Linked DNA regions of Homo sapiens. The protein of the gene in region 1 purifies or fractionates together with the protein of each later gene. This does not show direct contact. Each region holds a gene or a part of one and is shown in the gene's direction. Other genes may lie near its edges.

Region 1 (3,064 bases):
TGCTTCCCCATGTAGGAGTGGAATCTGCCTATGCACACAGCTATTCCAGTGCCAACTCCCAGTACCTAGAGCTGACACCCAAAAGCCAAGGCATCACACATATCTGTATCCACATGGAATTAGCTGAGTTGTGGCAACAGCAGTTGTTCTTATATATTATTATTTTTACTAGGTCGGGGCAACTTAAAACCTAACAGACTTGGATCCAGGCCGAAACGTTATAAAGGAAAAAAGCAAGTGGTGTTGACAGAGTTACTCTCTGCTTGATAACTAAAAAGCATAGAATGCAAAAGTAGGGAGGGCCCTGCCCTCCTAGCCAAAATTGCACATACCTTCCCTGCTGCAGCTGGTGAAGCAGCTAACTGCATGTGTTTCCCTATTGCAGGCCTTTCTGGTGGGTTTACCTCCTGAGAGGAAGAAGTGAGAAATACCCTCGCTCCTCTTAATTACACAGGAGGCAGGTGGAGAGGCATTGTTGTGCATGTGTGGCTCAGTTAACCCCACTTGTGGCGCAATAAATATGAAATTATGACAATTCAGATCATCTACCTTGACTTCCTCAAGTAGGAATACAGGTGTAGAAAGAAGGGTTCAAAGTGTTCATGACAAAACTGCCTCTCTTCTGGGCTTCTTCCCTGTGGGTTTCTTCTTAGAGCAGCACTCTCCAGTAATGCAAATGAATATGCAATTCTGTGTTTTCTGATGACTGCATTTAAAAAGAAAAAATTCATTTAAATAATTAATTTAACCCAGTATATCTAAAATATAATTTCTATATGTAATCTGTATCAATTATTGAGATATTTTTATATTTTATTTTTCATACTAAGTCTAGAAATCTATTTTTTTCTAGAATCTTATATAGAAAATATAGAAATCTTATATTTACAGCACATCTCAATTTGGATGAGCCACATTTTAAATGCTCAATAGTATGTGTGTCTGGCTGTTGTACTGGACAGCACAGGTCTAGAGAATCATGATGAGCAAAGGACAGGAGTTCTCCCTGTTTTCCCTGTGTGTTAACCTCTCTAGCATCTCTCCAATCTACCCCCTTTCCACCTCCACTGCTCTAATTCAGAACCTGATCATCTCCCACCCAGACACTTCAAACCACTTCCTATCTAGTGTCCCTCATCTCACGAATGTATTGTACATACTGCTGCCACTTAACTCTCTCATTTCATTCTTCTGCACCTTCACTGGATCACATTTCCTACAGAAACCCAAACTCATTATGATGATAATTTGTCCCTTTTAGAAGAAGCCTGTGATAATTTACATGCCAGCCATAATTGTATCTCTGGTACATGGCACATGTATTCCAGTATGGAACACTTTCTAGCCCTACCCCTATCCTTTAAGGCTCAGGGGACAGTTACTATCACTGTGAAGCCTTTCCCGTAACACTCTGCTTAGGTTTCATTTTTGCCACTTAAAATTGTATGTCTTAGGTTTTGGGGTTTCGGGGTCCATGCCTCTTTCCACTCTAGATATCAGGCACTTTCCCATCATCCTCCATAGCCTCACACATAATGGGCATTCAATAATGTTTGCCAAAATTGAAATAGACAAAATTGACCCATTTTCAAATAATGTTTATAACCAGGGGCTGTTACTGTTTTGTTTTTTTTTTCCTAGCTCACAATTGTAAAGCAGCGAGAACAACCAGAAATGGTTTTCCGACAGTTCCTGGTAGAAGACAAAGGACTTTACGGAGGCTCTTCTTATGTGGATTTCCTTTGTTGTGTTCACAAGGAGATCTGTCAGCTGCTTAATTAATTGAAACTTCTCTGTCATTGATGTTGCATTTCCAAGGAGATAATCTCCTTCTTGGTGCCTAATTTTCTAGATGATAATAGGCTAGTTTTGATTTCTTGCTCATTTTCAGAATAACTTTCCAGGAAGAGATGGCATTTAGAACTTCAGCTTTGGTGCTCAGGTATAAAGCCAATTAAGGTACAATTGTACCATAAAGGGAACAATCTGTTTCTGATTGCACAGTTTCTAATTTTTAAAACTGATGTGGTTTGCATTTCATAAAAGGCAAAGTTTACAGAACCATAAACATTCTCAATTTTCTTTATGCTAGACATATAAATTATTTTTCAAACTGTATAGATTTGGGGTAAAAAGTTGTCTCAGTTCCTCTCCCAATTGCAATGAGAAAAAAAAGCTTAATTTTTACATTATACTTAATTTTCTAAAACCATGTAACTCCATTGAACACATTTTTCAACTTAAGGTCTGCATAGCAGACTTTTAATAACCTTGGGATTTATCTGGTAGAACAATATGTGTTCTACATTTTTTTCATAATTATATATTGTGTATGTTAAAACTATTTTCCAGTTGTTTTGTCTGTAAAACTGTCTTTATCAATATGCTTAATGGTTCTTTGTACAATTTTGAAAGTTTCTACCTGTATATAATGGATGTTAACCAGTATCAATAAATCACTTCGTATAATCTTAGTAGGTAGATTTATTTATTTATTATGTATTTTTAGGTCTTAAAAAGAAATAAGGGTAGTATTCAAAAAGTCTTGGCAAAAAGTTGTTTGGGTAGCTCACTAAGAACAAATCAGGAAAACAAAATTTTCTCTTTTTTTTTGAGGGTTGAGGAGTACTAGGCAATAAATCTAAGAAACATCATATTATACTTGAGAAAGGCATTTCAAAGTTCTCTAAAATGTTTTTGTGGGCAAAATAAATAGAAATGGGCGACATGAAACCATTATTAATGAATATGTCTAAACCTAGAAGAATGATTTTGAGTGATGTCACAAAGGCATCTGCCTCTACCTGCCCTATTCAACTTTGTTATCAATTATATGAATAATAATAGCTAACATATATTGAGTACATATCGTGTCCCAAGAACTGCACTATGTTTTCTGGGAACATATGCACATGTATTCTTCACAGCAACCCTGATCCTGTTATCAGCCCCATTTACACATGAAGAAACAGGCTTAAGTTCCTTGTCTCTGATTATATGGCTAGTAAGATTTATTTATAAATTAGATGTCATGAAGTAGGTAGAAAAACAAATACAGTGACAG
Region 2 (3,662 bases), about 34 Mb from region 1:
TACATATTTGAACTTACTGATTTGGTTGTGAATTATTTGTTGATTGAGGGTTGCAGTTCTAAAGGTCTGATACTTTTTTTTTTAGAATGTTAACTTGAAGAGACCTATACAGCTCATCATAGTCTATCATGAGTATCCAGTTTCTTCTGCTCACAGAATAAGTTTTCCTCTGTCTAGCAACCTCACTTGGGGGAGCAGTCAACATAAGTTTATAGAGAATAGCGTATGCTAGGCTGGGCACGGTGCCTCACACCTGTAATCCCAACACTTTGGGAGGCTGTGGCGGGTGGATCACTTGATGTCAGGAGTTCAAAACCTGGCCAACATGGTGAAACCCCATCTCTCCTAAAAATAAAAAAATTAGCCGGGTGTGTGTTGCATGCCTGTAGTCCCAGCTACTTGGGAGGGGCTGAGGCAGGAGAATCGCTTGAACCCAGGAGGCGGAGGCTGCAGTAAGCCAAGATCCCACCACTTCACTCCAGCCTGGCCAACAGAGTGAGACTCCATCTCAAAAACAACATCAACAACAGACTAGCTTATGCTAAATTAGTTTCCTTTTAAGGTAATGACAAATTCGGAAGATATTTTATATCTAACACTGTAACAGTTACATTTATTTGCTTACCATGTGCATTAAGCTAAGTGCTTTACATTATTATCTCAAATGATAACCTTATAAAGTGGCTAAAGTCCTCATTTCTGTAGGTGAAGAAAATAAAGCTGAATGATTAACTGAAGCTAAAGTAGTCTGCTCAGAATTGCGCTGGTGGAGCCAGTGCATGGCTCCACCTACGTTGTCTGACTCTAGACTACTACTGTAGACAACTTCTACCATGCGTCCATTATGTCCTTTTTGAAATGAGTTGGAGATATATCACCTGACTTTCTATCAGGTGTTGAGAAAAGGTTGTTTCCTTTCTTAATCTTCAGTGGATGAACATCTGGTTGAATATCATACTGAGAAGTTTGACAAAAAAGTGAATTTGGTGGAGGCAGTTGGTAGGGGTTTCCTATGGGGATGGATATAAGTCTCTGGTGTGTGTGTGTGTGTGTGTTAGAACACACACACCTACTTGAAATAAAGAATTGTAAGTATTATAAATTCTTGAAATGAAGATTCAAATAATAAGCAGATGGTGTGTGTGTATATGAGGAGGGGAAAATGTGAAAATGAAGATTATAAGTAATAAACTGGGCATTGTAAGAGTCTGGAAGTATAAATAAATTTTAGAATAATACATTTGGGATGGAAAGAATAAATTCAGAATGGAAGAAGGAGTAAATTAAACAGGAAACTTTAATATGGTTATGGATGAAAAACTAAAATATTTGTACAGAATGGAAAGTGAGTTGTTCCACTTAATATGGAAGTTGATGACTTAGGATCATGACAATCTAAAAGTCAGATATGTAGCACTACTTCTGGATGTATGAAAAAGACTATTGGCCTGAAAATAATTTTGTTTTCCTTGATCTTTAGTAGCTTTTGGCAGTCATGGAAGCTGCCGAATGGCTCTTGCAGATTAACAGATATTCTTTATGAGACAAAAGTATTTATTTTCTTTTTCTTTTTCCTTTATTCCTATTCTCCTCTTTCTCCCATCTCTCATTCCATTCTCCTCCATTCCTTCTAAGCCTTTGTCTTAGGATGGGCATAGGCAGGTGTTGCTCAAACCTTTAGTTGTTCCTGAAAAAGGAATATAAAGTCTCTTTATGAAATACACTTTTTTCCCTTAATGAACATACTTATTTAAGTGAATGCTGTTTTTCAGAGTAGGCAATCTGCTTTGAAATCTTCTTCTAGTATGACTGTCGGTTCAGATTGAGACATACAAAAATGAAGTTCTTGCCTGGCTTCGTCACTTCGTGACCTCAGTCACCAGAATCTGAATAACTTTGGGTATTTGGAAAAAATCAGATCCTCTCTTGAAAGACAAAGATTTGGGGATCTGAAGGTAGTTGCAAAACAGGCAATTGCTCAAATCTTTTGTGAAAATATGGCAGTGTCTTTACCATGTTCTCACCTAAGATAAGAATTTATATTTTATTTTTGTATATCTGTGATAGCATTGGACTAGCAGCTCCTTGATGTTGAAGCTTGAGCCTCATTGGTCCCTGGGGAACAGTGACATACTGCCTTTGGAACAGGATCATAAAAGCAGCAGAGTTAGTGGTAAGCCCTAAATCTTCCAGAGGAGGGAGTCAGTTCGCCAACTCCAGTTTCTGCTAGCCTGAGATACTCATCATGGCACACATAAAAAATGATTATAATTGTATGGCAGACTAGAGCCAGGCCCTCCTTGGTTCCTTGGAAGCTGTGGAGTGGGGGAATGGGTCACAATTTCAGCACATCTGTAATCCATTCTTGGCACACTGTTTGGAAATCTTTGCCCTAGAGAAAAGGAATATGTTACTCTGTTTAATACCTTCTGTTTGTTTAGCATGTAATAATTTACAAAGCACTTTCACATACATCCTCATTTTATTTTTACTCCAGCCATACCAAATAGGTAGAGCAGATAACATCACCACATTAGAAATAAAGAAATTGAGATTTAGGTAAAGTGCTTTGTCCAGGGTCACATACCTAAAAAGGGATGGATCAGGAATTTATACCCTCAGTGGAAAGAGCCCCTGGGTTTAAGCCCGTGATCTGTAATCTCTAAAATGGCCAGGACCTTATCTGTTTTGTTTCAGTGCTATATATTGCCCAGGGTGGTCTTGAACTCCTGGGCTCAAGCGATCTTCCCGCCTTGGCCTCCCAAAGTGCTGGGATAACAGGCATGAACCACTGCATCCAGCATAAGTATTATAAATTCTTGAAATAAAGATTCAAGTAATAAGCAGAAAATGGAAAGGATGTTTTTTCTATTCCTCTAATCTCTCCACCCACCACACCTCTCTCCCAGTTAATTTGAAAAGTAGGTATTGGGGAATCAGATGAAATATATGAGAAAGCTGTAAACCTGCACTGTCTAATGCCAGGGATGCTAGCCACATGTAGCTATTTAAGTTAGTTAAAATTAAATACAATAAAAGATTCAGTTCCTCATTGTACCAGCCACATTTCAGTGTCAGTATCATATGTGGCTGGTGGCTACTTTATTGGACAGTGCAAATTTAGAACATTTCCAACAACATTGGCCAGCCCTGATAAAACTTTAAAATGCGACATGATATGATGTGATACATAATTCCTATATTGTTGAACCACGAGTTTAAAAATCTGCTACCCATGGTGCCTAGCAGTTTTTGTTTTAGCTGATGAAATGTTATTGCCATGTTCTCTCTCAGCTTTTTGTTTTAACTAAATCCAGATGGTCAAAGTCTAAGTCTAACATTTTTCTTGGATATTTGGGGATTATAGTTAGCTGCTTTTCTAGGATAAAGATGTCAGCTTCATTAAGGGCATGAGTGTTTTCTGTCTGCTTTGAGCTGTAGATCTGTATGTCTTGCTGTCTTGTTGACATCCTTTCTTGAATATCTTAAAGGTATCTCAAATCCAGTATGTCTAAAATGAAACTGATTTCCCCTTCCCTCCCTACAAAACTGCACAACGTTGGTTCTTTCTTTGTTCCTTTTTTCAGTGAATGACACAATTATCTTTTCATTGTAAAATCCAGAAAACTAGAAGTGATCCTTAATTCCCTCTCCCTGATAGA
Region 3 (2,414 bases), on another chromosome or scaffold:
GCTGGGATTACAGGTGTGTGCCACCACGCTCGGCTAATTTTTTATATTTTTTTTAGTAGAGACGGGGTTTCCCCATGTTAGGCAGGATGGTCTCGATCTCCTAACCTCGTGATCCGCCTGCCTCAGCCTCCCAAAGTGCTGGGATTACAGGCTTGAGCCACCGCACCCGGCCTAATCTCAGTTTTTGAAGTGCTCCACAAGTCATTAGGCACCAAAACATTTTCACCTGGGGAACACTGGCATTTCCCTGATTAGCTGTGAAGCAATCTAGTGGCTAAGTGTGAAATCCTGGGTGCGCAGGTGTTCTCACTCCCGCCGTGTTCTCAGTGCAGTGGTGGTCAGAGGCCCTTCCAAGGAGACATCACTCTGATCAGTTACAGATAGATGTTCTGGAAGATCTGCAGGTGAGTAGATCCAGCAGAGTTTCTTCCCACCAACTCTAGAAGAAAGGGCCTTATCAGAGTTGACCCTGAGCCTTTGGTAAGGTTTTGTGTGCATGCGATTCAGTTATCTTTGGCAATTCTTTTCTTGCTGCAGTGAGAGATTAATTGGTTGCTGATCAAACCGTTCATGCAGATGGGGGGACCTTTGGATTGTACGGCTTTCTCCTCTTGGCTGCTTTCTTTTCAGGAAGTTGGACTTTGGCCAGGTTTGGCTTTCCCAGAGCCGTTCCTTTCTCTGTCCTTTCCTTGGGTCCTCATGGTGTGCCCATTGGATCCTTGGCCTTGTGATCCTCTGGGAACTGGGGGCCAGTTCCACTTTTGCAGCCTTCTGTGCTGGAAGAGAAGCCCAGCGCCCTGGAAGGAGCCTCTTTAAGTCCCCCATGTCGCTTTCTCTCTCTGCTCTTTTAGTGTCTGAGATTGCCTTTCTTTGAATTTCCCAGTGTTTCTTTTCCTTGTCCCTTCCCTCACCAACCTGGAGTTATTTTGGTTGACTATGTCCTGGCTTTGGCTTCTCCTGGCAGGAAGTCATCAGGCATCCTCTCCAGGTGAGCCGAAATTCCACCCTCCCAGGTTGGACATCATCTTTTAAACCCAATGGTCTACTCCCCTCCTTCTTTATGAAACAGTGATTTCCCGTGAGTAACTCTGGTTCTGATTTTTTGTACCGGCGCTTAAATTCTTTCTGTAGACGTTGGAAAGCCACAAAGAACGTGACTGCAGTGAGCCTCCCACTGGAGCAGCCTTAACCAACACTTTGGCCAAAGCCCCCCCACCTCCCCTGTGTACTGTGTGTGTGTTTGGTGGATACAGTATTCCTTTTCAGTGTCCCTAAAGCTGTGATGGGGAGTCCCCACTTACCTAGAAAGCATTACCAGTCACCTACTCTGCATTCTCAGATGTAAACCTTGTGTAGTGTTCTTTTTGCAATGACCTATTTATTTAACCTATTTATATTTATTTAATTTTTACTCTGAAATGTATCCAGTTACAATTGTACTTGCTTAAAGCACATCAGATTTGTTTTGGACAACACCCTTGACCATTTTAAAACTGGAAAAGTGATACTGTATCCTTCCATGGGATGGATGCTTTACAGTAGTCTTATTATTAAAGGGTGATTAATTTGGTCGGGGTAAAATGTTAATTTTTAGGTGATTTTTAAGAATTCTGTGCCATTATGTCTTCTGTGTGGATGGTTAATTGTTTAATTAGTACGTGTTAATTGTGTGATACAGTCTTCTTTGTGGAACCCAAAATCCTCTTTTTAGCTTTATATTTTATAAACTGCCAGATTGTACAACTTTTATGTGCATTTTTAAAGCTTGAAGACATGAGGGTCATTATCTAAGTTAAACAGCCTATTTTTGTGCCTCCTGTACAGTTTTATAATTCTGCTGATGGCGGCATCTTATGTCGAGCCAACCACAATAAAGGTAGTTTTAGATTTTGGAGTCAGTCTCATTTTCTTAAAGATTCAAATACCATTCTCAGATAGGCTGTGCTCACTGTCCTTCTGGGTGGCCGGGGCTGGATTATGAGGCCTTTGCAGCTGGCTCGGCTGGTGGGGGATGGGTGTCCTCATGTCCACAGCAGGGTCCGGGGACTGGAACACCCTCCATGGTGGCTGTGTGTCAGAAAAGCTTCTTTGAAACCTTGCAGGAAGTTCCCAAAAGTACTGATTTGGGCTGAATTCCAGGAAGGTGGCCAGCTGGGACAGTCATGCCACGTGGTGAGAATTGGGCTTCAAAGCAGAGTTTGGGGCATGTGTACAGTAGGTAGGATACCAGACCAGGAAACCCAGGAGGGGAGAAATGCCATTGAGACCAACAAGGGCTGGGAGTGCCCCCAAAGAGTGGGACAGCGGCGTGTGGAATGAGCTCAGCTGACGTCTGCTTGGACTTTGCAATCCTCCCAACACACCTGCTCCTTCCCCTGCACCCTCTCTATGGAGAAATCAGGTGAGGCTCCACT

Evidence for each region.
Region 2: the proteins of SEC24D (region 1) and ARFIP1 fractionate together in Homo sapiens (co-fractionation; one large-scale study listed by BioGRID). This does not show direct contact.
Region 3: the proteins of SEC24D (region 1) and ERN1 purify together in Homo sapiens (co-immunoprecipitation; one study listed by IntAct). This does not show direct contact.

Annotation. Positions count from the first base shown.
Region 1 is NC_000004.12:118,722,233-118,725,296, reverse strand, and holds the end of SEC24D (protein transport protein Sec24D), read left to right. Parts: intron 1-1,641; coding exon 1,642-1,782; 3' UTR 1,783-2,474; downstream 2,475-3,064. UniProt on the Homo sapiens protein: Component of the coat protein complex II (COPII) which promotes the formation of transport vesicles from the endoplasmic reticulum (ER).
Region 2 is NC_000004.12:152,782,800-152,786,461, forward strand, and holds part of ARFIP1 (arfaptin-1), read left to right. Parts: intron 1-3,662. UniProt on the Homo sapiens protein: Plays a role in controlling biogenesis of secretory granules at the trans-Golgi network. Mechanistically, binds ARF-GTP at the neck of a growing secretory granule precursor and forms a protective scaffold.
Region 3 is NC_000017.11:64,038,622-64,041,035, reverse strand, and holds the end of ERN1 (serine/threonine-protein kinase/endoribonuclease IRE1 precursor), read left to right. Parts: 3' UTR 1-1,894; downstream 1,895-2,414. UniProt on the Homo sapiens protein: Serine/threonine-protein kinase and endoribonuclease that acts as a key sensor for the endoplasmic reticulum unfolded protein response (UPR).